Homo sapiens: one gene and its partners. The protein of the gene in region 2 interacts with the protein of the main gene of each other region in a pairwise test. Each region holds a gene or a part of one and is shown on either strand. Other genes may lie near its edges. The genes, in order: GARIN6, PDLIM7, SLAIN1 and PLEKHN1.

What was found.
Region 1: the proteins of PDLIM7 (region 2) and GARIN6 interact in binary tests that used the Homo sapiens proteins (3 or more experiments, as listed by UniProt).
Region 3: the proteins of PDLIM7 (region 2) and SLAIN1 interact in binary tests that used the Homo sapiens proteins (3 or more experiments, as listed by UniProt).
Region 4: the proteins of PDLIM7 (region 2) and PLEKHN1 interact in binary tests that used the Homo sapiens proteins (3 or more experiments, as listed by UniProt).

What each region holds. Positions count from the first base shown.
Region 1 is NC_000012.12:99,643,300-99,650,826, reverse strand, and holds GARIN6 (Golgi-associated RAB2 interactor protein 6), read right to left. Parts: upstream 3,075-7,527; 5' UTR 2,653-3,074; coding exon 2,038-2,652; intron 1,540-2,037; coding exon 1,429-1,539; 3' UTR 713-1,428; downstream 1-712.
Region 2 is NC_000005.10:177,487,217-177,494,656, forward strand, and holds part of PDLIM7 (PDZ and LIM domain protein 7), read right to left. Parts: intron 5,462-7,440; coding exon 5,310-5,461; intron 5,220-5,309; coding exon 5,189-5,219; intron 4,710-5,188; coding exon 4,591-4,709; intron 4,205-4,590; coding exon of another isoform or gene 4,188-4,204; intron 3,931-4,187; coding exon 3,794-3,930; intron 3,691-3,793; coding exon 3,654-3,690; intron 3,378-3,653; coding exon of another isoform or gene 3,281-3,377; exon of another isoform or gene 3,030-3,280; intron 2,816-3,029; exon of another isoform or gene 2,617-2,815; coding exon 2,555-2,616; intron 2,412-2,554; coding exon 2,177-2,411; intron 1,033-2,176; coding exon 852-1,032; intron 1-851. UniProt on the Homo sapiens protein: May function as a scaffold on which the coordinated assembly of proteins can occur. May play a role as an adapter that, via its PDZ domain, localizes LIM-binding proteins to actin filaments of both skeletal muscle and nonmuscle tissues.
Region 3 is NC_000013.11:77,693,073-77,700,887, reverse strand, and holds the start of SLAIN1 (SLAIN motif-containing protein 1), read right to left. Parts: upstream 3,202-7,815; 5' UTR 2,975-3,201; coding exon 2,349-2,974; intron 2,008-2,348; exon of another isoform or gene 1,965-2,007; coding exon of another isoform or gene 1,831-1,964; intron 1-1,830. UniProt on the Homo sapiens protein: Microtubule plus-end tracking protein that might be involved in the regulation of cytoplasmic microtubule dynamics, microtubule organization and microtubule elongation.
Region 4 is NC_000001.11:969,203-976,526, reverse strand, and holds the end of PLEKHN1 (pleckstrin homology domain-containing family N member 1), read right to left. Parts: intron 6,251-7,324; coding exon 6,104-6,250; intron 6,007-6,103; coding exon 5,926-6,006; intron 5,842-5,925; coding exon 5,769-5,841; coding exon of another isoform or gene 5,649-5,768; coding exon 5,521-5,648; intron 5,451-5,520; coding exon of another isoform or gene 5,415-5,450; coding exon 5,319-5,414; coding exon of another isoform or gene 5,308-5,318; intron 5,204-5,307; coding exon 5,123-5,203; intron 4,453-5,122; coding exon 4,377-4,452; intron 4,240-4,376; coding exon 4,103-4,239; intron 3,667-4,102; coding exon 3,517-3,666; intron 3,342-3,516; coding exon 3,201-3,341; intron 3,028-3,200; coding exon 2,887-3,027; intron 2,695-2,886; coding exon 2,476-2,694; intron 2,212-2,475; coding exon 2,163-2,211; intron 2,086-2,162; coding exon 1,952-2,085; 3' UTR 662-1,951; downstream 1-661. Other genes in the region: PERM1 (PGC-1 and ERR-induced regulator in muscle protein 1), read left to right, coding at 1-28, 258-355. UniProt on the Homo sapiens protein: Controls the stability of the leptin mRNA harboring an AU-rich element (ARE) in its 3' UTR, in cooperation with the RNA stabilizer ELAVL1.

The DNA of each region.
Region 1 (7,527 bases), on a different chromosome or scaffold from region 2:
ATGTGGATCTTACAATTCTAAAATGATCTAATTTCCAGTTTTTGTCCAGATTATGAATTGATCCTATATTACATTTTATTTTTCTATCTCCAAGAATACTAAAATTGGAGAGAACCAGGTAAAAGATGAGTGCTTTGCAATTATCTTTCCATTGTAACTAGATTGAAATTTCTACAAATTCATGAAAATTTAGAATTCTAAATAGCGTCAGGGGATTAAAATTCTTGGAAGATACTGAGAAGATTTACTGTAAATAGAGCTTTTATGGGACAATTGCAAAGCAGTTAATTAAGATTTAAGAAAGGAAATCAAGAATGAAGAGACTGGGAAAATTAAGCCCTTTCTGGAAAGTATGATTAAACTCAGAATTTGTTTCTCAACACTACCATTTACACAGTGCCTACTATGTTCCAGATATTATACATGTATGGTCTCAAGGTGACCATTTAAAGAAACAATCTACTGAAACTCACAGTTAATGTGTGGCAATGCTGTGATTCAAACCTGGAGAGAGAGAGGAGAGAGAGAGAGAGTCTGTGTGTGTGTATTCCTGGGTTCTCATTTTATATTTTGGAAAACAGTTTTAGAATAATTCTCCTAATGTAGGATCATATCTGAGAGTAATCTTCAACATTTTATTCTGTCATCTATTAATTTATTTAAAAAATATAAAGTTAAGGGAAAGTTAAAGATAGTTTTCAGAGCCTGATCATAAATTGCCATTAGTTTTATTGCTACCCTTCCTGTCAATAGAGCATATGTTATTAGAGCAGATAATTTGAGTTGATGGATTTTATTATGGTGAATCACATTGTTCCCCTCCACAGTCTTAGGTGAGATGTCCACCTCTGCACCATGTGTAGTACTGGGCTTTGAGGTTATTACTGCAGAGTCAATCCAGCTAGGTAGAGACCCTCTGGCTTCCATCCCATTCACGCATGTGGCCTCATCCTGCAGAGTTGAGATAACTGACTCCCAATGCTGAGTAGCAGAGAGTCAGCCTTTGAGTAGCAGAGAGATACTGTCAATGCAACAGCCTTCTCAGTATCTCTCTGCTCCTGTAGCCACCACATTCATACTGCTCTCTAGGGAGAGGCCAGTAGCACTTACTGATATGCTTGAAGTACCCTTTTAGGACAAGAATGTGCATGCAGCCCTTGCTATAACAAGATTAAGACATGGAAGCACCCACTAATAGCCATGCTGGCTATACTTCCTCCTGGACCTCTGAAGGCTGCTTTTGCCAGTGCTGTGTTTCTCTCCTGAGTCTGCAGACTTGGTTGCAGCCACATCCATGGTACCTGTGGTGGTGCTTACTGTCATCACTACTGCTGTTGCTACCCTGCCCCTTCATCAGGCACTATAGGTTTTATGACTGCAGGGGTGTGTGAACTCTTGAACGTAGTATATGTGGGAGGTATGTTGGATTCATATCTCTATTGTATAATCACAATAGGTGGACCCAAACATTTCAGCATTCATGTGAAGTCTACTGATTCTGAATTGCTCCTTCTCTTCACAAAACTTCATGGCATATCCCTAGGGAGAGAACAAATAAGCAAAGACAGTGAGACCAGCAAGATCTCCTTTCTCTTCCTATAGGTAAACAACAAAAAGAAATTATTGCACAAGTACACAAACATGTTGTGTTGCCACCAATGTATATAAGTGGCAATTGCAGGGAGACACGTCCTACAACATATCAGCCTGCCTAGGTCATAGTATGTGTTTCAGAATAGACTGGTCAGGATGCTTTGGACAGCATTACAACATTGATATAAAATGAACAGCTGTGGATATAAAATGAAGAGTTGCTGACAGCTAAGAAATCTCTGAAATTCAGGCTTGGAGAACCCTGGAGAAGCACTAGGAACCTCCTCAATGTACCATGGCCTCCAAATGGAAGCTCATTTGGCCTTCAGACCTTCCAAATGCAATGCATTTCCCAGGTGAGCTGCAGCACCAAAGGCTTTACAGGACCTGTACCTGCTCTCCCCCAAAGCATCCAGGCCCCATCTAGTCTCTGCATAGACTCACCACTGGGCTCCTCTGCACTTCCTCCAACACAGATGAGTCCAATGTGTTCCCAGCTAGGATAGCCCTGGTATCACTGTAAGCCTCCACTGGTGGTCTCAGGATGTAAACAAGGTTTTCCCAGTGAACAAAAAGGTCTTCACTTGCATCCGATGGAGGACACAGCTGAAGATAAAAAGAGCGGCCCGTGGCAAGCTTCAGGTGGAGCTGTTTTTTTACGCTGTTGTGGATGGTTATTTTCACAAACATCAAGGGAAGCAGCCTGGTTAGTTCTAAGATCTCTGCAGGCGGACTTTCTCTTTTCTGGGTGGCAGGACCACACCTGGCATTGTCACAGACAGCAGCTGGTCGGGCCAGCAGCATGACATCAGGTAGTGTGAGGCAGGGGCTGGTGCGAACGATGCCCATTGTTACCATTCGGGCACGGTTGTGCACGTCAATCACTTCTCCTCTTTTGCTGATCTGGATAAAGTCGCTCTCAAACATGGGTGCATACCTGAATATAGTATACTCGCCTTTGTACAGTTGCCGCTGCAGCTTCCCCATGGAGGTGTTAAACATGCCCATTGCGGGGCTGCTTTGGGCCGTGTAATACGGTAGCATACAGCAGTCCTCCATGTCTTCCTTTAAATCAAGACAGTTCCCAGCAGCTGCTCCACACCTTCCTTAACATGCTTTAGCGGGCATCCTGTTTCCTTGGCTACTCTGGCAGGTGGGCCAGCAGTCGTGTTCTGCAGGCTTTCTTTTTTGTCCCCAAGTGACTGAGAACAGGGAGGGTGGGGTATTGATTACCAACCGCTCAATGCCAGAGACAGTCAGTCCCCTGGATCCAGACTGTGCCCTGCTTAGTGCATGGAGCTGTCAGGAGCACAGGTGTTGGGGCCCTCGTGGATGTCCGGGCACACAGGTGTCAGTGCTCATTCGGGAGGGACCTCCATTTGAGCCTGATATTCCACTTCACAACAGCCTTTGCTCTTTGATTCCACAACCTTAACTGGCAATCCCACTGCTCTTCTTCCCAACCTGAACCATCCACTGCTGCTAAACCACCCCGCAGGACCACTTTTATCCTCCCCTACCCATTGTGACCTGCCCCATCACACACCCCTTTGTCTCTGTCACCCAGTAGTCCCTGCCTCAGAGCAGGGGCACCGCCCTCTCCACCCCACCCTCAGCCCCACCGCCCTCCACAGCTCAGCAGACCACTACCCCGCCACCAACCTACCATCTAGGGACCTTAATGCATTCTGGCAAATTGCTTTCAAAAGGGTTAGAGGTAAATTTTCTGTGCAAGGCAAGAGTTTAATATACATTCTCTGTATACTCATTTATCCAGCTCCTCTAGTTGTAGACATTTATTTTAAAGAGAGAATTGGATAAATTGGTAAACAGATTGGTACAGGATGTTTATCAATGTTTGTTGTAGAGTAAAAAATTATAAACAGCATTAGTGTCTTACAATAGGGGATTGCTTAAATAAATTATGGAGCTTCTGTGACGGGACAGTCTGCAGCCCTAAAAATGATTACGTAGTTTTCCTATTTATTGACATGAAAAGATATCCCTGACCTTTTTTTTTCTTAAAGAATAAGAGAAAAACTGATTTCAAACTCATAGTATAGGTGAGATTCAATTTATGTAAGACCACGTGTATGTGTTTGTGGATATGGAATTATGTTCAGTGAAATGTTTAAAGTGCTTAGGTATAATTTTCATTTTCTTTTTAACTTCTATTTTTATTAGGAAATTTATTTCTGTTACCAGGGGAAATAACTATTTTATTGGCAATGTATTTTTTTTTTTCTGTTTCTATAGCCATGATAAATTTTATGTTTTGACTCACCCTCAAACTGTTGATGCAATTTTTGAGTTTTACCTAGACATTCATACCCTGGCTATGGAATGAAAAGAGCCTTAAACATCACATTTATGCTCTATTCTTTACCATCAGATTGTATTGAGAAAAAAAAAAGCTGTAAAGAATTTTGCTAGGTATTGCAAATATTTTCAATTCAATAAGATTATAATATCTTTATTGAAATGACAGTACACATGATAACCCATGTGAACACAAACACACACACACACACAGAGCCATAGCCATAGTTGAGTCTTTTTTTTTTTTTTTTTTTTTTTTTTTGAGATGGAGTCTCACTCTGTCACCCGGGCTGGAATCAGTGGCGTGATCTTGGCTCACTGCAACCTCCGCCTCCTGGGTTCAAGTGATTCTCCTGCATCAGCTTTCCTAGTAGCTGGGACTACAGGCGTGTGCCACCACGCCCGGCTAATTTGTATTTTTAGTAGAGATGGGGTTTCACCATATTGCTCAGGCTGGTCTCGAACTCCTGACCTCGTGATTCGCCCGCCTTGGCCCCCCAAGTGCTGGGATTACAGGTGTGAGCCACCGTGCCCAGCCCACTTGAGTCTTTAGTTGCATAAGTCAATGCAAACATAATTTCTTCCTTTCATATTGAAATGTTTGATTATTTTGGATACTTGGAGTATTTTTATTTTATTTATTGAGATGCCTATTCACATATCAATAGCACTTTTTACTGCCCTTCCTAAAGTCTTTATATCTTAACTTCCACTTCAAGTCTATGTTACTTATCTTGTAATTGGCAAAACCAAGAAACCAAATACACATTTAGTAAAATAACGTTTTAAAAGTGTCCAAGTGGTTCTGATGTTTTTCATAAGGGATAACAGGATTGGTAGTATTGGACACAGCAAAATTTAATTTAAGTGCCTTTTTTTTTTTTTTTTACTGATTTTCTTAAAAGTACTTTTTTGCTATACACATATATGACAAGATATTTGTCTTAGAGTTCCATTAGAGCGCTGGTCTCCAAGGAAGCCAGAAACTACATTACTTATAGAGCCTATAGATGTTTGGATTTTCCACACCAGTCAGTAGACTGACAACGGTGGAACCTCTTTCATTTGGCTTGATAACCATCCTATGTAGCATTCTGGCAAATACCTATTTTTATGAATTTGATGGGGTTTGTCTGAAATTCCTCTAGCTGTTTAGAAAACTACCTTTTTAGCATTTGCCTCAAGACTTGAGAAGCTCAGATAGCTAAATAAAAAACTACCTGAACTTGAGATTAAGAAATTCCTTTTATGAAAATGCAGCAGCTTTCTGTGTGGTTGCTGTTAAATCAGATTTCTATATAGTTAGTCACTAGATATATTAAAATAAATTTATATACTCTCTCCTCTCTGTTGGAGTTTATGTCATTGGGTTAATAATTTAACCTCTCTGGGCCTTATTTTTCTCAGCCTTGAAATGGAGATGACCCCTGAGCTATCTTTCAACTCCAGAATAGTTACGGTTTTGTGATAGGGCTTTAGCTTTCCCCCTCTCTCCCAACAACAAAACTACTACATACTTTGGAGATACTCTGAACCATAACAATGAATCGAGATATTATTCGTATAACTGCTCTGGGAATTGTTTAATTCAATATATGATTTTATTCTCTTGCTAAATTTCGTCTTCCCAAAACTTTTAAAAGAACCAACGTTTGAAATGAGGAAATGGCAAGATATTAGTTCAGTAAGATAGGCAATCAGCGGTGTTAGTGCTTAAAACTATGTAATTGAAAATATGGGTTAAGTATTTTAAACAGAAATCAGTTAATAATGAACATGGCTGTGGTTTACAGAATAATTCCCCCAAAAGATATTTACATTATAATCTTCACAACCTGTGAATATATTACCTTATGTGGCAGAGGAACTTTGCAGATGTGATTCAGTTTAGGATCTGAATTGGGGGTGTTATCTGGATTACGTTGGGGGTCCGGTGTAATCACAGTGGTCTTTGTAAGAGAAAGGCAGCAGGGTCAGAGTCAGAAGATATGTGATGATGGAAGTAGAGGTCAGAGTGGTGCAGCCATGGACCAAAGGAATGCAAGAGGCCTCTGGAAGCTGAAAAAACAGGAAGTGGATTCTCCCTGTGAGCCTCCAGAAGGAGATAGCCCTGCCAATACCTTAACTTTAGCCCAGAGAGAATCATTTTAGACTTTGACCTTGAGAACTATGAGAGAATAAATTTGTGTTGTTATAAGCAACTAAGTTTGTGGTAATTTGTAATGGTAGCCCTAGGAAACTATTCCACATTTTGGTACCTGGAAGTGGAGTGCTGCTGTAACAGGTGCATAAAAATATAGAAATGGCTTTGGAATTGGGCACTGGGTAGAAGCTAGAAGAATTTTGAGGAGCATGATGTAAAGAGCTTAGATTGCCTTGAACAGAAATATGGACATTAAAGATGCCGCTAATAAGGGCTCAGAAAGAAGTGATATGGTAGAGAAAACCTGTATTTTCTTAGAGATTACCTAATTGTCATAAACATAATGTTTATACAAACGAGGATGTTAAAGTCACTACTGTGAGGGTTCAGAAGAAAGCGGGGGAAATGGTAGAGAGAACTTGTATGATCTTAGAGAATACCTAAATCATTGTAGAGAGAATGTTAATAAACATATGAATGTTAAAGGTGCTTCTGATAAGGACTCAGAAATAAATAGGAAACATGTTATTGAAAACTGGAGGAAAGGAGATACTTGCTATATAATAGCAGATAGTCTAGAGGAATTATATTCTATGGTTATGTGCAAAGCAGATCTAGTAGGTGATGAACTTGGATATTTTGCTGAGTAGATTTCTAGATAAAGTGTTGGAGGTATGGCCTGGTTTCCTCTTGTTGCCTATACTGAAATGTGGGAGGAGGAAAGAGATAAATTGTGAGAAGAACATTTAAACTCAAAGAAACCAGGACTTGATGGTTGGAACATTCTCAATCTATCCAGATTGCAAAAAACACTGAAATTTTTAGATTCACTGTCAAGAAGTGTACTTAGAGAGAAAGCTGAAAGCATGGCTAGATAACTTGTTTCTAGTGCCTCAGGAGGATCAAAAACTGAGATTATTCAACCACACAGAGGGCTCTTTGAAGAGATTGAGCAGATCTGAATTATGATGAGATGAATTACGCTGAGATGGGATTCAGAGTTGGGATTATCCAGGAAATTCTTGTGACATACCTGGGAGACCCACAGTGTTTTCATGAATGGTTTATTAGCGGAGACTTTGGTAGCTTGGACTTAAAGGGACAGAGGATAAAATGAAAGAAGGCTGTTGGATTCCTGAAATTCTGCAGGCAGGAAATAGGCTTATGAAACTACTGAGTTTGCAAACATAAGTTAACCTTTATGGAATAGAAAGGAGGACTCAGAGGATGGGACTGAGGCCCGAGAGGGTAGAGCTGAGAACTCCAAAGGATTATTCCCAGGGCTTGAAACCTAATGGAGTTTGCCCAGTTGCAGTTCTGAATTGCTTCGGACTGTTGACTCACTTTTTATTTTTCATTTCTCTCTCTTTGGTTGGGGATATCTATAATTGTTTCGCTACACTTGTCATATCATTGAATTTTAGGAGCGAATAACTTTTTATTCCAGTTTCACAGATTCACAGATGCGTCTG
Region 2 (7,440 bases):
CCACTGCATCGGCCACTCTCCCATTCTTGCCGACTGATGGAACCCCCAGTTTTGCTGGACACATGGGTGCCCAAAATAAAGACTATATTTCCCAGCCTCCGTTGCCACTGGGTGTGGTCATGTGACTGGGTTCTGACCAACAGGATGAAAGCAGAGGTTCAGGTGGCAGCATCCTCTAAGGATGGACGCCATGGGGCTCTGTCCCCTTTCTTCTCCTTCCGACTTCCTGCTGGCTGGAAGGTGAGCATTTTGGCGGAGGCTGAAGTGTCATCTTGCACCATGAGTGGTAAGTAAGCAGGTGCTGCCAACAGTCAAGCAACAAGGCGGAGCCTGGGTCCACCAGATCAGTCCCAGACCACCCACCCCGGGATGTTTTTAGATGAGAAATAAGCCACCATTATTTTGAGTTTCCCACTGCTCGTGGTCAAGGTAAACCTCACTAATATGAACATCACCACACAGAGCTCTCTGGCTACTCCTGGCAGCCCTGGCTCTGGATCCAGAAATGAGGAGGACGCATGAGACAGAGCAGCTTCAGCGTGTCAAGTTGGCCGTTCTGTCATTTCACCAGGGCAGGGAGAGCCCAAAGTGGGAGTCAGGAGGGCCCAGGGCTTCTCCTGGCTTGGTCCTCCTGCTCTTTGCAGCCTTGGGCGGTTTCTGAGCAGGAACATGGTCATTTGTTAAGAGCATCCTGACTAATGCAGGGTGAGGCCAGTACAGCAGCCCATTTATTACGCTGGTAAGGACCCGGAGGGCTCACTCGGGGAGAGACCTGGACTGTGGGTTTCCCAGCAGCCCTCGTTCCCACTGACAGGCTTGGGACCACCTCCCCGCCAGCCAGCCCTACTCACGCCTGTAATCTTCTTCTTGCACTTGGCACAGCTGGGTGCATAGCGCACGTCATAGCATGGTGGGCAGAAGATGGCGCCCTTCTCCTCAAAGAAGCCACCCTCTTCCAGGACCTTCCCACACTGGCTACACACAAACTCCTCCGGGTGGTACGCGTGGCCCAGCGCCACCAGGTAGCGGCCCCTGCAGGGAGGCGAGAGCGGTCAGAGGGAGCACACGCAGAGAGGTGGGGGTCTTGGCCCCCTTCAGGTTGACTGACCACCCACCAGGAGGCCTTGGGAGGGACAGTTCATTCTCCCCATTTTCCACATAGGATAGAAGACAGGCTTGGGAAGTGACCGTGGCAGCCGTGAAGCTTACAGAGCCAGTCCGCCACACTGAACTGCTGGTGACAGGAGAGGCAGCTTTAGAGCAGGGAGGACCCCGGGAGGAAGGGCTGACGACTGGAGCCTCATAAAAGCTGAGCCGCCCCTGGGCAAACCCTGGAGCTGCCCTGTCCTGCTGGCCTGCCTGTTCTACCTGGCAAGAGCTGATAGAGTCGGCTGGGCACAGTGGCTCACACCTGTAGTCCCAGCACTTTGGGAGGCCAAGGCAGGCCTGAGATCACCTGAGGTGAGGAGTTTGAGACCAGCCTGGCCAACATGGTAAAACCCCGTCTCTACTAAAAATACAAAATTAGCCAGGCATGGTGGCGGGTGCCTGTAATCCCAGCTACTCAGGAGGCTGAGGCAGGAGAATCTCTTGAACCCAGGAGGCAGAGGTTGCAGTGAGCCGAGATCGCGCCACTGCACGCCAACGTGGGCAACACAGTGAGACTCTGTTTCAAAAAAAAAAAAAAAAGAGCTGACAGAGATGAGAGCAGGCCAGGCCTGCGAATTAGGAAGGCTCTAGAATCCGGCACGCTGATGCTGGGGGGTGTTTGATGCTGCTTGGCCCCACGGGGCAGTGCACAGAGGGAGTGGCTCCAGGCCTGTATGCTCTGAGAGCAGAGGGAGACAGAGAGCAGGAGGGAGGGGCAGACGCGCTGGGAGGGGGCAGGCCCCTCTTTGCCCAGAGAGCAGCAAAGGTAGGGGTGCAGCTTCAGCCTATGGTTGGCCCTTCGGCTATTTCGCCACGGCAGATGCTGCTAGCAGTTGTTGTGGGTGGGCTGGGGTAGGTAGCGTGGGATTAAGAATGGGAGGACCCAGCCCAGGTCCCTACTCCTACTCCAGCTGAGAACTGAATCCTTATTCCCCCCAGTCGCAGCTGAGGCAAGACAGGTGGGCAGACAGGTGGGGCTGGGCTGCAGGATGGGAAAGCCAGGGTCGGACAGGAACAGGCCACCCACCGGATGACCTTGTGGCACTGGTGACACACGGGAGTCTTGCCGTTGTTGCTGCCCCCTCCTGGCACCCCTCCGGCAGCTGCCTGCACAATGGAGGTGCGGCTCTGCAGCGGCGTGGGCGTGGCCGGCTGGCTGTGCCGGGTCAGCACTGTGCTCGTTTTGTCCGGGGCATAGCGCTCGGCAAACGCAGGGTCCACAGCCCAGGGCGGGCGGCTGGTAGGGCTGGGGGCGGTAGGGCCTGCCGGGGAAAGTGACTCTAAAGGGGTGCCCAGGGACCCCAAAGGACGGGGGTGGAGCCCCAGGCAGCTGAGAGAAGCCCACCACCCCCATGCCCCTGGAGGCTGCCCACCCTTGCCCAGGCCCGAGCCCACTCCCTCTCACCAGGCCAGGGCTCCTGGGGTGTAGATGAGGCTGGGGCTGGGGCTTCTGTCCTGGGCACCTGGCTGCAAGATCTGCCATTCAAGGCCCTGCATGGCTGAGCTTCCTGACATGGCCCCACCCCCCAACCTGGGTCCTGCTGGCCCCACGGGAGATGACTGGGGGCGTGGAAACTGCCGAGTTGGATTCCAGGTCCCACTGGGGTAGGGATGGGAAGGGCAGCTTCTCCTAGCAATGTCCAGTTAGCTGGTGTGCGGTCTCTAGCTGGGAGACGAGGCAGGGCTCCCGCTTCTGAGGCAGCTCCTGGGGTTCCCCTCATGCCAGGAAGCCATCTGTGATGGCAGGGCAGGGCCCCTTTGCCAGGTACCCCCTCCCACTGAAAACGAGGACGGCAGGGCCCAAACAGTCCGAACCACGAAACACCCCCACACCCCAAATGCAAACCAGGTCCACAAAGATAGAAGACAGGCAGAGCAAGCAGGGCTGAGAATGTTTATTCCATGCCCAAGGCAGCACAGACCTGGCAGACAGCAGTACCACAGGGCAAAGAGGGAAGGCAGTGTCAGATGAACCCAGGTGGGCGGCCAGGGCCAGGCCAGCAGGAGGCTCAGGCCAGGGGCACGAAAGGGGGGGTGAGGTAGGCAGAAGCTGGAGGCACTAAGGGGGTGCCCTGGGCAGGAGGAACAGAAAGAGGGAGGCAGAGAGGGCAGCCGGCTGGAGAGGGCCGGGCTACGACTGCACGTTGAGCACGTGGGCAGAGCGCTGGTGGTGCCAGTCCCGGAGGCGGGTGTAGCGTGGGCTCTGCAGCTCCAGGACATACTTTTCCCTGAGGGGCAGAGAGAGAGGGAGGAAGAAGTGGAAGGAAGGAGAGATGGAAGGGAGGCAGGGAGGGAGGAGGGAAGGAAGGAGGGAGGGAAGAAATGAAAGAAGGAAGGAAGGAGGAAGGGAAGGAAGGAAGGAAGGAAGGAAGGAAGGAAGGAAGGAAGGAAGGAAGGAAGGGAGAATTGAGAGCCCCAGCTGGGAGCCTCAGGAGTAGACACAGGGCAGTAGCTGGAATGGAAGAGGCAGGAGGTGGGAGAGGGGCTGGTGCCCGTCCCTGTACCTTGATTTCTTCAGGTGCTCCTCATCCGGGTCTTGCACTGAGAGGGCAGAGGCAGGCATTGACCAAAAAAGACACAGGGTCAGGGATCACGCCTGGGCTGGGGGCGAGGAAAGTACCCCCTGCCCTGGGCTGGCACTTACTGAACTCGGTGCCTGTGAGGTGGGCAAGGATGCGGAAGGAACGCGACTGGCCTGTCCCCGGCCGCGGCCGCCAGTCCTCTGTGTTCTCCATCAGCCGCTGCTTGCTGGCATCTGGGACCAGCGGTCGGAGCGGCTGTCTGTGGGGAGGGTGTGGCTCAGAACCCCACACTGGGGGTGGGCGGTGGGGGCAGCCCCTCCCAGGATTTGGTGCATGTGGGTTTGGGTTACAGTGATGGGAGGGAGTGGGTAAGGGTGAGGCCAGGAGCCCTGCTGGGCGGGTAGGTGAGAGGACAGGAGGGCGAAGTGGAGAGGAGGGCAGCCAGGGTGGGGAGGGGCCGCCACCCAGAGTGCCAAAAGGAAGAAGAAAGGCACAGGCAGAGGGGGGCTCACTGACTTGTCAGGGGTCTGCACCTGTGAAGGAAATAAGACAGACAGACAGATAAAGGGACAAAGGGACAGACACAGGAGAGGAAGAAAGACGGGGAGGGGTCAGAACAGCCGGGGACAAGGCGGCACTGAGTGTCTGGGGCTCAGCTGGCCCGACACCACAACCCAACCCCCAGCCGCCAGCAGGGGGCGCGGCGTCATTCAGAGACCCCTCCCCAGGGCGGTGCCCTGCAAGGCGCCACAGCCTCGGGAGGGGCCCTGTGCCTGCAGCCCCACCCCGGCCGCCAGGGGGCGCTGCCGCACGGTTCCGCCGGGCTGGGGCGCAGCACAGACTGAGCAGCAGCGGGCAGCGGGCGTGGGGCCACAGTGGGCCTGATGGCGTGGGCGCGGGCGGGCAGGGGCCGACGTACCCATTCTGCTGCGGGGCGCTGTCAGCGGGCGGGGGCGCCCCAAAGGGCCGGGCCGTCTTGTTGAGGGAGACGCTGGGTGCAAAGGTGTACCGCGGAGGGTCCGCGGCGGGGGCGGAGGCCTGGGCAGAGACACAGCCGGGCAGGGCGGGCGGGCAGGGTAAGGTGGGGGCCTGGGTGGAAGTGGGGCGCCTGCAGCAGAGGACAGCGGCAGCTCCAGCCCCCCACCCCCACCCCACCCCCTACATCTATTTGGAGGCTACGGGGAGAGGACGACTCAGGTTTCAAGGGGCCCATTTGGGAGTGGCGATCTCAGTCCACGCAGGACCGAGGGCTGACCGAGTGCGGGCGAGCACGCAGCGCCGGCGGCGGGAGGCAGCAGGCGGACAGACAGGCGGACAGACAGGCGGACATGCGTGGTGCCAGGACCGTGCAGCAGCCCCTGGCTCAACTCCAGGGCCCTAGACCCGCCTTAGCTCCGGTTTCTGCCCTCCACTCCCGGCCAGGGATTGGGGTACCGAGAATGTGCCAGGAGGGCGAGCAGGCCTGGCCGTCCAAGCCCACACCGCCCACCGCCCGGATGTCCCGGCCAGCCTCGTACCTTCTGCGGTTTGCTCTGAACCGGCTGGGCCCTGGAGGAGAAGGAAAGCGTGACAGCGGGCCGGGCCCGCAGGGATCCCCACTGCCAGCGCGGGCGCACCCATCCATGTCCACCCGCATACCTGCTGAGGCCCAGGCTGAGGCGCTCCCCGCAGGCCCGGATCTTGTTCTGAGCTTCGATGTGTGTGAGGCTACCCGCATTCTCGCCATCGATGCTCAGCACCCAGTCACCCACGGCCACTCCGGCCTGCGCCGCTTTGCCCCCAGGAGTGAGCTGTGGAGAGAGAAGCAAAGTGACCGAGGCCCTGGACCCTGCAGACCCAAGCCAGGCTGACGGTGGTAACACTGCCCCACCCAAAGCTGTCCCACTTCCAGAACCCAGAGAGCTCTTCATTCAACATAGTTCTAGGCAGCTGCTGGACACTAAAGCAACCCAGGAGGTGGTGGCGCTCACCTGAGCTTCACAATTTCCCAGTCACACTGCTTATTTATTCACTGCCAGACCCTCTCCCTCAGGTGGTGCTCACCTGAGCTTCCCCAGTCACGATGCTTATCTATTCACCGCCACCACCCTCCCCCACAGTCCAGAAATTGCTATGATGTCCACAAACAGCCACGCTCAGGCTAAAGCCCAAGTGTTTCAGGAGGACCATTGCCTTTTGAGGCTCCTGCTGGCCTCCTGCCCAGGCCACTCCACCTACCAGATATGCCCTCTGGCCCATGCAGGGGGCAGCTTCCTCCCCGAAACCACCGGGGGCTCTTATGGACCTCTCACCCCCCAGCACCCTGTCGGGGGCCATCTATAGGGGTCTGCTGGGACCCTTTGAGAGCCAGGAACAGGCCCTGTTATCTCCCGGTTCCCTGTGAACACTGCCTGAATGGGACCTAAGTTGACAGCTGGGACTTCGTAGGCCATACATGGCTGTCACTCCCAAGCCCTCGACTGCCAATTTCCCCTGACCCCAATCCTTCAGGCTCTTGAGCTGGGAGTCCCTGGTTCCTGTGGCAATGAGTAGAGACAGTAGGCTGGGAGAAATGGCTGCCACCAGCATGAGCTGAGACCATCAGGAATGACTTTGAGGAAGCGGTGGGCCTCGGTAAAGGAGAATGGCGTGTGCTGCCTAGCGGGTGAGAGTTCACTTACGATGGCTTTGAATGCCAGGGGAAGGGACCAGGACTTGGCTTTGAAGGTAGAGGGGCTACTGGCAGTTTTAATGTCTGGGATTGGGTATCTCCCAGGCCCTGAGAGGGTGACCCTGATAAACCCCTTCCAGGCCTCTAGCCCAGCCCCAGCAACACAGGCAGGGCAGCTTGACTGGGTCCAAGCCTAAGGGACCACCCAGCCATCTGGCAAGAGGCCTGGCACTGCATCAAGTAGGCTTTTGTGAGGCAGTGCTGGAAGACAATTTCACTGGGTGGGGGGGATCTGGGGGGGTCCAGGCTGCCAGTGGCCCCAGGAGGCTCCTCAGGTGGGTCAGTGCACAGACTGAGCTGAGGCAGGGAGAGGGGAGGCAAGAGGTTTCAGAGAGATGTCAGAGGGCAGGGCAGCCAGGCACAGAGCTTGACAGCACTGGGAAAAGAAAGGCGAGCTGGGCTCAACATGACCTCTTGCTTGCGTAGGAGGTCAGAAGGCTAAGAGAGCTCGGCGGCCCCTTCCTCACTCGCTAGATAAGAAGACTTGCTTCAGTTTATTGAGCACCAACTATGCTACATATTGACACTGAATCTTCCAACAACCTTGTGGAGTAATCTGGGATTTTACCCATTTTGCACTTGCAAATGTACACAGAGAGGTTAAACAACTTGCCTCAAGTCACCCAGCTAGTAAGAGGCAGAGCCAGGAAGTGTCTCTGACCCTAAGGCTCCACCACTGTGGGCCACCTCTGCTGAGCATGGGGGCCCAACTGAGGGGTCAGCCCACCTGGAGACACCCTGAGCCACTCCCTCACCTTTAGTTCAATCCAACTAAATCAACCCCTTATACTGTGTATGGGGAAGTGACACCCCAGAGGGGAAGTGACTTACTCAAGGTCATGGTGAGTCAGTAGAAGGGAAACCTGGCCCAGCCACTCCCTGCCCACAGGGCTGGCTCCTGGGAGCTGTGGGCTGAGCCCGAGGTGGGGGTCTTGGGGTGCAGCTAGCTGGCTCCTGGAGAGGGGGTGGGGGGCGGGGACGGCTTCCCTTCCCAGAGTGAGGAGGGCAGGAAGCACAGAGGATGAGGGGTGTTCAGAGCGTGGGGAGGGCAGCAGGAGA
Region 3 (7,815 bases), on a different chromosome or scaffold from region 2:
GTGACCTTATACCTACATCTATGTTTTAGTTTTTTTACAATGAGCATGTAAAACTTGTAGTTTTAAATATTTTTAAAATAAGGTACTATATACCCACTCCAGTTGTTTCTTAATAAACACAGGAAATAAAAATAAGTTGCCATCCTGCAAACATATCAGGGAACCAAATGAACAGCACTCTTATTTCTGAGACCACACTACTGGGACACTATAGTCTGCAGTGATAAAGGAACAGAGTGCTTTGCAAGCATTAACAAGTGGGTTAAACTTTAAAAATTAAACCCTGTTGATATTTTCTTCATCAAAAAGATTTGCAATGCAAACAAAATCTTGATGCATAAAATGTAATAATAAAATTATGTAAATCAGGTAACTTTAAAATTTTTAAGACCATCCCACTAAGATTAATGAACCCTCCTTGTTTTTCCACCTGGAATTCTAATCTCAGGCTTGTTTTCAGGAAGATTCTCTGCCATTTGTCTCTAGAAACATTTGTAAAGCATCAAGGCTTTGATTTATTCACCTGTGTACTTGTTGAATGAAATAGAACCTGCTTCAACTTTGATTTGCTTCAAACCATCTGAAGAGCTAATATACTAATACCACTAAGTGGGTGATTTCTGTTAAAGTTGATTATTTCAATGCTATTTGGACAAAATTAAACTATAAAAAGAAAGCCTAGGTACCAAAATGCTAGTAATAGGATGCTAACTAAATATGACAGAAATCCATTCAAAAGAAGGAAAGTTATTAATAGATTACTAATCTCATATTTACAAACAATATCACAATAAATTTTAAAATGCAAATATTTTAAGCATAAAACTGATCCCATATATCTCCCCATCAAAAATGTAAACAAGTTTCCTTCCACTGTTTACATACATACCATCAGAAAAGGCTAAGTAGGGACTAAATCAACCTAAAATAATTTGAAAGTGGCATAAGGGCTGAGAGTTATTAGTGAAATCTAAGGACCATCATGAGAGCATTTTCTAGTACCACATTCAGACTGAAACTGAGATTACTTTACAGAAATAAGGGTGCAGCTTTGAAAAAATGGCTTAAAGTTCCCAAAAGTGATGAGTTGTTTGATTTTTTTACACCTTGAGCTACCTGCACAGCTGCCAAAAAGTATTAAGGTGGATGATGAATACACCTCTGAAAGGCTTACTGTAACTCCATATATTTTGATTCTTGAATGAAACCAATTAACTAATGTACTTTACAGTTAGAGCTCTCACATGACAGAGTGTAAGGGAAAAGGAACACTGCAGTTCCCAATAGGAAACCAGTAAGGATCTCCATTTCCCAATCCCTTCCATGCAATCATGCAACAGAGACACAAAGAAAGTAATGAAAACACAGCTTGGAAAAACAGAAAGGGTCCTACATAAAAAGGACCTAAAGTAAAGAAGGACTACAGCAAGCCTCCCCCTAAAGTTACTCATTCATGGAAAGTAGACAGTGCTAACCAGATGTCAACTGAATAAATGCTGTCAGCCTCAAGTTTTCTGATAACCAAGCTAAAAAGTTTCCAAGAAATAAGAAAATAAGGCTTCTCTAATCTCACTTTTCTTCTACAGTTTAATTTAAAAAATTAAAGACAGTTCGTTGGTTCCTAGGTAAAAAAATAAATAAATAAATAAAAAAGTCCCTCCCACCTGTTCATTCCACTCCAAGAAAAGTCCTCTTTATTGGCACTATTTATGGGAAAGCCAGTGAGGTCACCCCATTTTAAAAAGCAAGTCAGTCTCTGAAAATAAGATTTCAATGAAAATGCAACGCAAAAGGGCACACGACTGCAAAATTCAAACAGCAAGAACGAACCTCTCTATAAAGAGAGATCCATCACTGCGCGGCTTCCGATGCCACCCGAGGAGGAAGAGCACGCAAATCCTGTCCAGCGTTCGTTTAAAACGAAAGAACAGTAACAGTCGCAGACAGAGGCCAACCCCTACCATCCCCCGTCATCCCTCCGAAAACACTGGGGAAAAGAGCAGCACTGAGCAAAAAGACAAGATGACATGGATTTTGCACTTAATGCTAACGAGGAGCTTGGGACCCAACAATCAGCAAATAGCAGAACCCATGGCAGATGGGGGGAAGGGGGGGCCGGTTCATCCGCAGTCGGAGCGATTAGAAAACAGGTTTCTGCCTTCATGAGAAGCCTCATCGTGGGAAGTGTCACCGCCTGGCTCAACACCTGCTGGGTCGGCCCCTCCGGGAGCCGCGGGGAGTCACCCCGGCTGCCGCGAGGGGACCCCCGTCCGCCCCCCGCCCCCGCTCCCCGGTGCCCGAAGCCCCCGAGGCCAGGGTCTCGGGGAAGGAGCGGAGCCAGGCAGTACCAGGTGTAGTCGTCCTCGTCCCGCCAGGCGGCTACGCTCTCCAGATCCAGCAATTCCACCTCGTCCAGCAGCGTGGGGGGCGGCGAGGGCGGCGCTGCAGCTGCCCCTGGCGGCGTCCCCGCGCCCCCCGGCTCCGGCCCGCCACCGCCCGCGCCGAAGAAGCCTGCTGCCGGCTTGAAGTAGACGAAGGGCGCCTCGGGTGGCTGCGCCAGGCTGCAAAGCAGGGAGGGCGCGGGGCTAGGCAGGCAGAAGGTGCCCGGGAACGCGGGGCTGGAGCCACCGCCGCTGCCACTACCGCTGCCGCCACCGCCCCCCGCGCCCAGCGCCAGCCCGAGCCCCAGGCCCCCTGAGGCCGCGGCGGTGGCCGTGGCGGCCGGGGGGCTCCGAGGACCCAAAGGCTGCAGGCCAGCGGGGGGCGGCGCGGCGGGCGGCGGCGGCGGCAGCAGCAGCAGGTGCGGGGCGGCGGCCGCGCTGGCCGCTCGACTCCGCAGCTGCTCGTTCTGCTTCTCCAGCTTGCGCACCAGCTCCTGCAGCTTCTTCACCTCCAGCTCCGCGTTCACCACCGGCCCGGAGCCCGCTCCAGAGCTGACCCCTGCCGAGGCGCATTTCACCTGCTCCGCCATCATCGTGGGCCCCGAGGGCGCCGCGGCCGCCGGGGAGTGCGCGCCGCCGCGCCGGCTCCTCGGGCCACGGGGAGGCTACGGCTCCTTCCCTGTCGCCCCGGCCTGGGGGGCCGACCACGCGCGGGCTGAGGCCGAGCCGGCGGTTCGCATCAGCACCGGGCCCTCGCCTCCGGCCGCGGCAGCCACCACCGAGCTGATCTGCACATGCTCAGTGCGTCCCTCCAGTCCCCTGGGCGTCGCGGCGGCTCCGGGTTTTAGCCGCGGCCCCGGAGCGGGGCGGGGCAAGAGCGCCGAGGGGGCGGGTGGGGGGGGGGGGGCGGAGAACCGTGGGGAAGCCCACCCAGGGGGCGGGGCCGGCAGCCCGGGTTGGGGCCGGGGAGCCGCACCCACCCTCGCTACCTAATCCCAGGGGCCTGATTGGACCTGGCCTGAACTTTCCCGCCACAAGCACCTCCTCCTGCCGCTTGGTGGGACAGTGAACTGCGCGGGTCTCTGAGGCGGTTGCGGGGACCAGGGGGTTCCCAAAGAAGCAGCTGCAGGTGCTGGCCCTCGAGTAGTGCACCACCGGCCCGCTGGTTTGCTCCCTTCCCAGCTCTCTGTTAGGCTCCGTGACAGCACTTAATAGCCACTGGCTAACGAATCCTATAGAAAACTTAAAGGCTGGGGATCGTTATTCTAAAAACCGAAAAGTGGAGATAGGGGGAACAGAAAGGCTTTGGGACCATGCCACTCATGTTCTCATTGGTAATAGAGAAGCAAAATGGTGGGAGACAGGAGACCGAGAAGAAAGAGAAGAAAGCCCTCTCTCTAAGAGGTAGAGTGGCCAGCTGCTAAGGAGACAAGTGTTTACTTATTTATTCTAAAATAGTCAAATTTGAACTGTTACCATCATTGTTTGTCACAATAAAAGAAGAACTGCTTTTTTTTTCATACTATGTATATTCATGCATTCCCCAAACAAAAGATCTTTGAGCACCTACTCTGTGCCAGGAACCATTCTAAGAGCTCGTGATGCGGGCAATGAGTACAATAGGCAAAAATGGTTATGGGGAGAAATATGAGTAAAATTGTTTAGTGCTCCTTCTATTAAATAATGTGTAAGTTATTAAAGTCAGACTTGCTGGTGGGAAAGCAGAAAACAGAAAACCTCAGAATTCTACCCAATACACTTTAATCTCACCTGCAAACCTGCTATTTCTTACCACTTGGAAAACGAGCAAATCTGCTTTTTTTAAAAGAGGCTTTTAAGCAGAAGAATTTAATCGAGTTGTGTTCAATGAATACTGACTGACTTAGCATTTTGAGTGTTTAACACAATCAGAGGAAAACCTGAGATTATATTATGAGAAAAATCTACACCACTGGTTCTCATCCTCAGATGATATACTATCTAGTGAAAGTCCTTGCTAGGGACTTTACATACCAATCTTTGTGACAATGTACCTCATTTCTCTGGAGCTGCTAACACATCGTATCTATTGGTTTCAGATATGGTTTTGTGTCTTCCTGCTCAGAAACACTTGTATCTTCTCAGTTGTTAATCTACATCTCTAGCTTCTGTGTGCAGGGTGGATGTTCTGCATTTAACATGCTTGGTGAGCGCTTCCATAAATTAGCTAAATGCGTGTGATGACTCCCTTAACCTTCCCTGTGTCCCAGCTTGCTAGCCCACCACCTAACCACCTGTATCACCCATCACCTTTCCAAGTTTCGGTATATCTTTAGGATTTTTTTTGGTTATTACCAAAACCTGGAGAAATGGAGTAATACTACTGAAAGTCCTAAGTAAAGAATCTATTGAAGGATTTTTCCCGCATGCTCAGTGGCAGATGCGGGTAGCAGTATCTCCCTGCAACACAAAGAAAGGGAGACGACAGACACAATGAGAACAAAGAGCTGCTGGGTCCCAGACTAGAGAAAGAAATTGGGAATAGGCACATAATAGTGAAGACAACAAGAATTAAGATGTAAAGAAAAGCCGTCATTTTACTGCACAATTTATATACACTCTAAAGAAGGAGAGAAACAGACAGCCCTTTCCTCCTTCATTTACCCAATATGGTCTATATACATCCAACAAGCAGTAGCCAAGCTTTTGAACCCTGTTTTCTAAGTAATAATTATCATAAAAATCTTTGTTCTTTAAAAAGAAAGCATGCATTGAAATTTAGACATAGAAAAGAGATGAAACATTGTTTTACAATTCTAGTCTGCATTATTCTTCTGAAAAGACAAATTTGCCCTTTTCCTACCTATTTTAAAAGTGTGAAATTATTAATGTCTAAAGAAAATTTAAATCATGTTTTTGCTTTCTCTTAATGCCCCTCTTTTTTTCCCTTCTGTGAATTGCACATGTACACACACCAGAGACACTCAAAATGCACACTGATTTCAAGTTGGTGTCCCCAGGATGCCAGTCTCTTTAACGTATAATTAAAGAGGTTGATGGTGTCAAGGTTTTAATTAAGCAGTCTTGATTTTTTTATTTTGATGCAAATTAGTAAGCTTTGTGTTTTGAAAGAAATTGCATGCTGTAGTTGCTCAATTGTAATGTTTTGATTTTAAATAAAATATGTAGGTGATTTCAGAGGTTTACAAAGAGGATATGAAAAATGAAAGTGCATGTCTCATTTAAAAGTTTATGCTTTAAGCATACATTTGATACACCATAAGGTAATGTGAAACATCCACATATCACACATTCAAAACTGGATAAAGAAATGCATGTTTCTCTCTATTCATTACACTTCAGAACTATCATCACTCTAGTGAATTTTAAGAAAGCACATGAACTTATTTTAATTTGTATTTTTCACATATATTTCTAATACTGTGTATGAACATTAAATAGATCCAGCAACAGAATCGCAAAAGCACCCATAGGTTCTTGAGTATATAAAAATAATTCTCAAAGGAAATCTAGAAACAGCCTGTTATTATCCCAGTTTTACAGATGAGCTTACAAGGTTATGTTACTTGCCCAAGTTCACTCATGAAAATGATGGTTCTTAGCAGTTGCTAGTGGGCCAGAGTAAAATTTCTCCTAGAGTAAGATTCATACGTTTAAATTTTGCGATCAGTGCAGCTGACATACCCTAATATGAGCACTACATTAATTCAAGTTTATAGATCCAATTACTGCAAGAAAAGAAAATAACCTAATGTGTTAAACTAAGATCAAAGATCCCCAACTGTGTTTTCAAGTTGATTTGAACCACAATGTTTGAGTGATTCTTATGCCTCTTCATGGAGATTCCTGTTTATACATACAGAATAGACTCGAACACTGCAGGTCCCACTGCCCATATGCAGTGCCTAGCACAGTGTCTAGCACATGGCAAATAAATACTCAAAAAATTTTAAAAGATAAATGAATCAATAAATAAATCCCCAAGTTCTAGCTGGAATTTAGACAAACACATAATTAGCTATTTCCATAAACCTCATTTATCATATGGTAACAACATAGGAAGACTAGAGGCTTTCTGCAGATCCCATAATAATCAATTATTTTACATCTGACCCAGTTAATAGCCAGGAAAATACTTGCTGCACCTAATGTGTTGCATTTTAATGTAAGGAGATTATGGAAAGAGAAAACAGAAATACAAGAAGTCAGAATTTATTCAAAAAAAATCCCTGTGTGAGTTGCTCCATTCTAACCCCACCCAACTCTACTACTCATATTCATGCCCAAAACCCACATAATTATACCCTATAAGGTCACATGTGGTGGTAGTTATAATAACAATAATAGTAATAATAATCATTCTGTTGATTTGTCAAGCTATACCTGTAAGAGCCCTTTAGAATAAACACTCATTACATGTCTATTATTTTCAAGTGCTAGATGAGTTTTGAGAAGTGAGTAAGAAAACAGTGTCTCCACCATCAAGACCTTATCTAGTTGGAGAAAGAAGCATATAAGCAACTAACTATAACACAAAAATTAGTGTTATGTATCATGAAGAAAATATAAATAAACAGCATAGGGAGTGATCAAGAAGGAGCAATTTTGGCTAAAAATTTTGGGAAGGCCTCAAGTAGAAAGCAAACATTATTTCAACCAGGCACGGAGGCATGTGTCTGTAGTCCCAGCTACTCAGGGGGCTGAGAAAGGAGGATTGCTAGAGCCCAGGAATTCAAGGCCAGCTTGGGGAACATAGTGATATTTCATCTCTAAAAGAAAGAGAGAGAGAGGAGGAAAGGCAGGCAGGCGAGGGAGGAAGAGAAGGCAAGAAGAAAGAAAGAGAAGGGAAGAAAAGAAAGGAAGGAAGGAGAAAGAGGGAGGGAGGAAGGAAGGAAGGAAGGAAGGAAGGAAGGAAGGAAGGAAGGAAGGAAGGAATCCATTATCTCATTTGGATCTCCTCATTTAAGAGAATTCATTATCTCATTTGGTTCTCCTCATCAAGCTGTTAGCTAAGGCATCAGGGCAAGTATTGTGATATTCATTTATCAGTCTTCATGGGATGAAAACTAGGAAATAGTACCCAGCTCTAATTCTTAATCTATATCCTTTCCTCTGTGGTCGATTTGTTTTGTTTTTATGAATAGCTCACACATGTATTACTGCCATTAGAAAGAAACTTTCTACAATTTATCTTAGAAGCTATCTAGTGCTTACTAAATGCCAAGAATTGCTGTAAGCCCTTTACATTTATTAAGTTATTAAATTGTCAAACAACTCCTTGAGATAATTATTCTTATTGTATAAACGAGAAAACTGAGGCACAGAGAGGTCAATTTGCCCACAGTTACCCAGCCATAAGTGGCAGAGCCAGGATTTGAAGCTAAGCAGTCTGATTTCAGAGTCCAAGCTCCTAAACTGTATTATCTCTTTTTAG
Region 4 (7,324 bases), on a different chromosome or scaffold from region 2:
CCGCATACCCCAGACGCCTGGAAAACAGGTTTGGGTGCCTGGGGGCAGAGGGAGCTGCGCCTAGAAGCCAGACCGAGGGGCGCTGGCAGGACGAGGGGTGCACGGGGGCCCCGGGGCTCACCCCTGACCTGCTCCCCCCAGGCTGAGCTGCGGCCCTGGCCGCACCGACCTTGCCCGCCCTTTGAGGGCTGGGTCTTGCGGGCAGACGGTGCCGACAGCCAGGCTGGCCCTCAGAAGAGCCTGTGCTTCTCTTGCAGCCTTGCTGGCCAACGTCGGCACCATCTCTGCCATCCGCTACTTCCGCCGGCAGGTGGGGCAAGGGCGCCGCAGCCACAGCCCCAGCCCCAGCTCCTAGGAGCCAGGCCCGGGCCAGGGAGATGCAGGATGAGGAGACGACCACAGGCGCCCAGGGCAGGACGAGGTGCCGCCCTCGCCCGGGCCCTCTGACCCCTCTCTTCTACCGCGTCCAGGAGGGGGGCGTGTCCTGGTGCTGCTCCCTCCGACTCACCTGAGGATCCAGCCAGTGACCACGGCCACTCCCCACGCCTGGGAGGGAGGTGCTAAAGTCTGGGTGGGTGGAGGGCAGGCAGGTGGCTGGGTAGGAGGGTGGCCAGATTCACAGATGAGAACACAGGGCATTCGGTTAATTTCAGACAGGCAATAGTGGGGAGGTCATTTTACTAAGAAGTTGTTGTTTATCTGAAATCAAATGCAACCGCACCCTGCGTTTCTTCTGGGGTGCAGGGGGAGCTGAGTGGCAGGACAGGACTTGGACCTCGGAGGGGTCTGAGCAGCAAGACACTCCGGCTGGAGCTCTGGGCAGAGGCAGGGGAGAGGACACAGGGTGGCCTCAAAGAGGGGATGGGCAGCCTCCTCACAGGTGGGCTGGGCTGGCAAGGGCTCCAAGGCCCATCACTCTTGATCCTCAAAGGACTGTGGCCAAGGCCTCTGCGGGCTCTGGCCTGAGACAGCGAAGGCTCTGCCTGCCCCTCCCCAGTGCAGCAGCCCCTGCAGGGTGGGGGTCTGTGGCAGAGCCGCGAGCCCCTCCCCGGGAGCCCTGGGTGCAGGTGCAGAGGGAGAATTCGGTGGCCTCAGATGGAGGGCTGGGCTCCTGGGGTTGTCCCGGGGGCTCCTGTGGGGCAGCTGGGGACCCACAGCCAAGAGGAGTCAGAGATGAGGTGGGAAGGTCGGTGAGGGGCCCGAGGTGGCAGAGGAAGGGGGCTGCCTGGCTGGGTGCTGGGTGGGGGTCCTCAAGACTGTGGGAGACCCTGGCTGCTGAGCAGAGAACACATGGATGCAGCACCAATAAAATTCTATCTTTTCTTTTTCTTTCTTCCTTTTCTTATTCTCTCTCTCTCTTTCCTTCTCTTCTCTTCTCTCTTCTCTTCTTTTCTCTCTTCTCCTCTCTCTCTTCTCTCTTTTTTCTTTCTCGTCCGGTGGTGTCAACGTCTCCCGTGCTGCCCTGTGGTGCGCGCCAGGCCACACAAGGACCCACCCACCCTCCTCCTCGGGGCACCCTGGCTTGTGCTCCTCACACCTTGCTGACCTGTGACCCTCATGCCCTCTGACCTCACATACTCTGACCCTGCTGACCTTTCTCTGTCCTCCGACCTTCACGCCCGTGCTGCCCTCCCACTCCCAGCGAGTCTCCTCCCTGACTCCTGGCGGGCTGAGCTGAGGGCCGACCCTGTGGACGGCCAGGACCTCCCTGACCTGTGACCCAGCCTCGCTGGCCAGGGCATCCTTTGGATGGGGCCCCTCCCACCCTTCCCTGCCCCAGCTGCTGGCACCAAGGAACAGGAGCTGAGGGACGGGCTCTGAACTCAGGGCCCCAGAGACTCCCCCCATCACACTGGGTTCAGACCCTGACTTGTAATTTGAAGTGGGTTAGAGGGGCAGGTACCCTGGAGCTTGGCGAGGGTGGTCCTGAGAACCCACCTCACCGCGGCCATCAGATCCACTGCACAAGCCCCCCACTGGCCTCAGGCCCTCCAAGCTGGGGGCACTTCTGGTGGGAGGAAGACAAAGTCTCGTCCCAGAGGTGGTCGTAGCCGGGGTCCCGGCTCCTCCTGGGGGACCGACCATCTGGTAGGGAAGGCAGAGATGTGTCAGCCTGTGGGAGGCAACAGGCACTCACCTCAGGAGGCAGGATCCTTACTCACCTGTCAGAGGCAGCCAGGGTTCGGGCGAACCTTCCCTGGCAGAGGAGACCTGGAACCCCAAACCGCAAGTCTGAGAGCCGGGCACAGCCCCAGGCAGGGAGCTTGGAGGCGGCCTGTCACTGTGCAGCCCCCCATGTCCCCCTGCTCTCCCTCCCCAGTCCCATCTCCCCAACTCCCTACTGGCCCCCCTGGCCTCCATCTGCCCCCGTCCTCCTGTTTCCCTCCCTGCTCCCTCAGAGTCCCAAGAGGCCCCACACCAGACCCCCGGCCAGCCCGGAGCCCGGGGCACACGGGCGTGGGGGCTGCTACTCACAAGCTGAGGGGCGTCTGGGGGCTGCGGCCCCCCATCCTTGGCTGAGCCCCGGTGTCTCTGAGCGGCTCTGGACTGCAGGGCTCCCTTCTTGGAGAGCAAGTAGGGGCCAGCGGGGCCGGAGGAGCAGGAGCGAGGGTCAGAGGCAGGCACAGACACAGGCACCGAGGGGAGTGGGCTCGAGGGCGTGGGTCCACGTGCACTCTGCATGGCACTGAGGAACTGCAGGGAGAGCCAGGGCTGGGGCCTGGGTGGCAGCCAGGGGCCCCCAGAACCTCAACCTCCCATCAGAGCCTGAACAGACCTCAGGCTTGGGGCAGCCCCAGACCCCAGGGTGAGACGCACGGTCTAGACCTCCCCAGCCTCAGGCTGCAGGCACCTCCCACCCTTTCTGTCACCCAGCAGGGGCCTGACCTCCTCCAGGCCCCGGACATCTGTGACCCTGCGGTGGGAGGTGGCGGGTGGTGTGTAGGGGTCGGCATAGAGGGGCGAGTGTGATGTTTCCGAAGTGTGGTCAGGGGCATCTGGGCTGCTCTCCAGGCTCAGCCTGTGCAGCTGCAGGGCAGAGGTGGGAGAAATGGGCTTCTCGGCTAGAAACAGCCTAGGCCACCCCTTCTCTGTGCAAGAGGCCTCTGGGTGGCTCCAGGACAACTGGGCCCAGAGACAGAGACCAGTGGTGCGGAACGGTGGGAACCAGGCCAGGGGCTGTGTGGGTGTGCTGGGCCCACCTGGGTCAGGTCCAGGTGCAGTGGGGTGACAGGGCCGCGGCCCTCTGCCCGGGCCTTGCTCCCGGGTGACCGGCTGCTGCCACTGCGTCTCAGCTCGGTCCTCCGTCGGCCAATGCTGGCACGGTCAGAGTTGGCCTGGTCCTGTGGGGACCACAAACCTTCCAGGAAGAGCCCTTTGGCCCCTCTCCCGTGCAACTCTCTGAGGCTGCAAGGGGCTCCCTCCAGTCTGAGTTCCCCTGAGGAACCAGGGTCCCCAACACACACCTACCCGACAGCCTTCTGCCCCACTTTCGTCTGCCACCCCGTAAGCGCTCACCGGTGTGTGCTGGGAGGAGCAGCCCACGGTGGATGGCACTGAGGACTCAGGCAGGGAGTGGCTGGTGCGGGTGGAGGGGGGCGCCAAGCACCCCGAGTCCCAGCTGGTCTGTCCGCCTGAGGAGAGTGAGCCTCGGCCACTGCCCATAACCTGGATGGGCAGTGAGTGGGGGTGAGTGAGGGCTGGACCCCCTCCCCACCCGCCCCTGCCTGGACCCACCGTGCTGTCCCCCCTTTTATCTTTTTGGGACGAAGTCTTATTCTGTCGCCCAGGCTGCAGTACAGTGGCACGATCTCGGCTCACTGCAACCTCCGCCTCCTGGTCAAGCGATTCTCCTGCCTCAGCCTCCTGAGTAGCTGGGGTTACAGGGATGTACCGCCATGCCCGGCTAATTTTTTTGTATTTTTAATAGAGACAGGGTTTCTCCACGTCGGTCAGGCTGATCTCGAACCCCTGACCTCAAATGATCCGCCCGCCTCAGCCTCCTAAAATGCTGGGATTACAGGCGTGCGCCACCACGCCCGGTCTGCTGCCCCCTTTTTACCACTGCCCAGGACCTGGGCTGTGGGGCCTATTGACCCCTCACCTGCGACCCTGGGAAGCTCTCGGCACCAGGCAGCGGCGGGGCCCCCTCCCTGTGGGTGACAGCGCGAAGGCACAGCAGCCAGTGACCGTAGTCCTCGTAGCTGGCGCACACCACGCGGATGGTGTTGATGAGGGGGCCTGGCATACAGATGCTGTGAGGGGCTGGCGGGGGGGTGCACCCCTCAGCGCCCCCACTAAAGAGTCGGGCGTCCCCCAGGCTCCCGCCCCACCATGGCCTGGCCAGGCGGGAGGCAGAACCAGGGTCAGGGCCCTACCTTCAATCAGGAAGGAGCGGATCTGCTTCTCCTTCTCCTCCAGGTTGATGTGGACGGCACGGAGTGGGAGCTCCCCCTGCGGAGCAGAGATTGAGGGCCAGGCCTTTGTAGGGGCAGCCCCGGGGCCCCGCCTGGCCTCATCCCACCCTCTTGCCCTCCAGAGCTTGGCTGGGTACTTGGAGAGCTGGGCACCGAGGCCACCACCCTGAGGGAGGCCAGTGGGTCCCATGTCTCCTGGGGCTACCACCAACCCTGGCGCGGGGGCCTTCGCCGGCTAGGGGCAGACACACAAAGCCACAGGACTGGCCTCTTGGGGTCCCCAGAGAAGAAGTTGGGCCGGGTGAACCATGGGGAGGGCCCTGTGTTTGTTCCTCAGTGACTGAAGGTTACCGTGAGTGCACACCCCCTTCCCGGAGCCCGCCCTGGAGGACACACGCACACGCACGTGTGCACACACACGCCTCACGGGCAGGCACACACAAGGGAGTCCCCGGGAGGGGCTCTCAGCCCCATGCTGCCCGCCCCAGGGTGACGGTCAAGAACCTCAGGGTGAGAACCTCAGGGCGGGCAGGGGCTCCTCCATGTCACAGCGGAGACCAGACTGACCAGGACCGCGGGCTGGGTGGGCAGGGCCCTGCGCTCTGTCTCAACAAGCCCCGAAATACAGGTTCCTCCTGCATGGCTGCCCCCTCCCACCCCCACACAGCTGCCTCCCTGGGGCGGGCCCACAGTGGGGAGGGGCCCACCTTGAAGCAAAGCCCGTCCAGCTCCTCGGAGAAAATGGCCAAGGACGTTGGGTACAGGACCAAGAGCCGGTCCCACTGCTCCTGGGTGGGTGGGGGTGGGGTCAGGCGATGAGGGAACTGAGCTGCTGTTGCACCGCCCTGCCCACCACCATGCACCCCTCCCATCCCCCTACAGCCCCACGCACCTCCCACCCACCTGTGCGGGCAGGTGCTGCAGCTTGACCCTCGAGGCACAGACAGCACTGCCGCCGGGTTCGTGCCCTGACGCCGTCCGCAGCCGGGTTAGACGGCGCTGCAAAGTCCAGGGGAGTTCGTCTCCGCAGGACCCCTGTGAGGAGGAGGTCAGAGCCGGCTGCGAGGATCAGGGTGGGGAGGGGGGTGGGGTCCCCGGCACTGACCTGTGGGGGTGCCGAGTGGCAGCGCCGCGGCCCCCCGAGGAGGGCCGTCTGCTTCTCCAGGTGGTAAAGCCAGCGGTCCAGCTCGGCCCGGCTGGGGCAGAGCACCAGGAGGGGTGCGGGCAGTGGGCCTGCGGGCAGGGCAGAGAGGGCACACACATACACACACGTGCTCCGCAGCCACAGGGCAGGCCCCTCTCCAAGTCCTGGGTCAGGAGTGCCTCTGGGGGCCCGGGAAGCATCCCAAACACCTGTGATCTGGAAGGCGTGCTCTCGGGACCCCTCGAGCGGGCAGACACTCAGCTCCGTCAGCGGTAACAGCCCCTGCCAGGCACAGGGTAGGAGGAGCTTCAGGGATCCATGGAGGGAAGGGCGGCCATGGCCCCACCCCATTGCCCACCGCCTCACCTGAAATGTGAGTCCTTCCGAGCCGTGGGCCTGGAAGTACAGGTGGGCGGGGAATAGCTCCAGGTAGCAGTCGCTGACATCCTGCGCGGGGAGCAGGGTCGTCAGTGCGGAGTCTGGGGAGCCCCAGGCTGATGGGGATGCTGCACCCTTAGCGTGCTCCACCCAGCCCGGCCCCCACCTGGCTGTGCTGGAACCGCAGCTGGACCTTGGCGTAATGCACAACTTTTCCCAGGTTCCTCACAGGCACCCTCCGCCGCCCCTTCTTGAACACACTCAGGAATGGCTGCTCCAGGTTTTCTCGCTGGTTCTCCAGGTCCAGGATGTCCTAGGAGGAGTAGAGCTCAGGGGAGGGGGCCTCCCCTGGGCCCCCCACCCCCTCCGCTCGCATCCACACAGCTACAGGACTATAGCATGGTCTGCCTGTGCATAGCCACACAACACATATGTGAAGAACAGCCCCCCACAGGCACAGAACCTGTGCACAGCCACACAACACATACGTGAAGAACAGCCCCCCACAGGCACAGAACCTGTGCACAGCCACACAACACATACGTGAAGAACAGCCCCCCACAGGCACAGAACCTGTGCACAGCCACACAACACATACGTGAAGAACAGCCCCCCACAGGCACAGAACCTGCACACTCAGCCTTTCCACAGGAAAACAGTCACGGCAGAATTTACACACACGTGCATACATATATGCATACATGCATATTCGTGTACACGTACACGCACACACACCCGATACGTGCACATGCAGGCAACATGCATGCATCCATATATGCGCACACATACACATGTATAAATGCATACACGCACACATGCATACACACACAATAGACACATACATGCCACACAATACAGACACAGATGCATACACACGGGAACACACATACGCACTTATACACACATGTACACACACGCACACATATGCATGGATACACACGTGCACACATACACAGTTGCACATACACAGATATGCACACACGTGCATACATGCATACATATCCACACGCAAATACACCCATACACATGTATACACATACACACGTGCACATACACACGTGCACACATACACATGCACACCTATACACACATGCACACACATGCATGCACACATGCACACTGCATACATGCATACATTTCCACACACACACAAATACACCAACACACACGTATACATACACCTGTGCATATACACACAGATGTGTGCACACATATACACGTGCAAACACATGCACACATACACACTTGTGCACACACACGCACACACAGACACACTTCCCCACACAGAGCTGCCTGGTCTAGTGGTAGAGATGGTGAGATCTGGACTCAGTGGATTAAACCCATCTTCATTCTTTCCTAAGCTGTGTAACATGGCTTGGGTTATTCA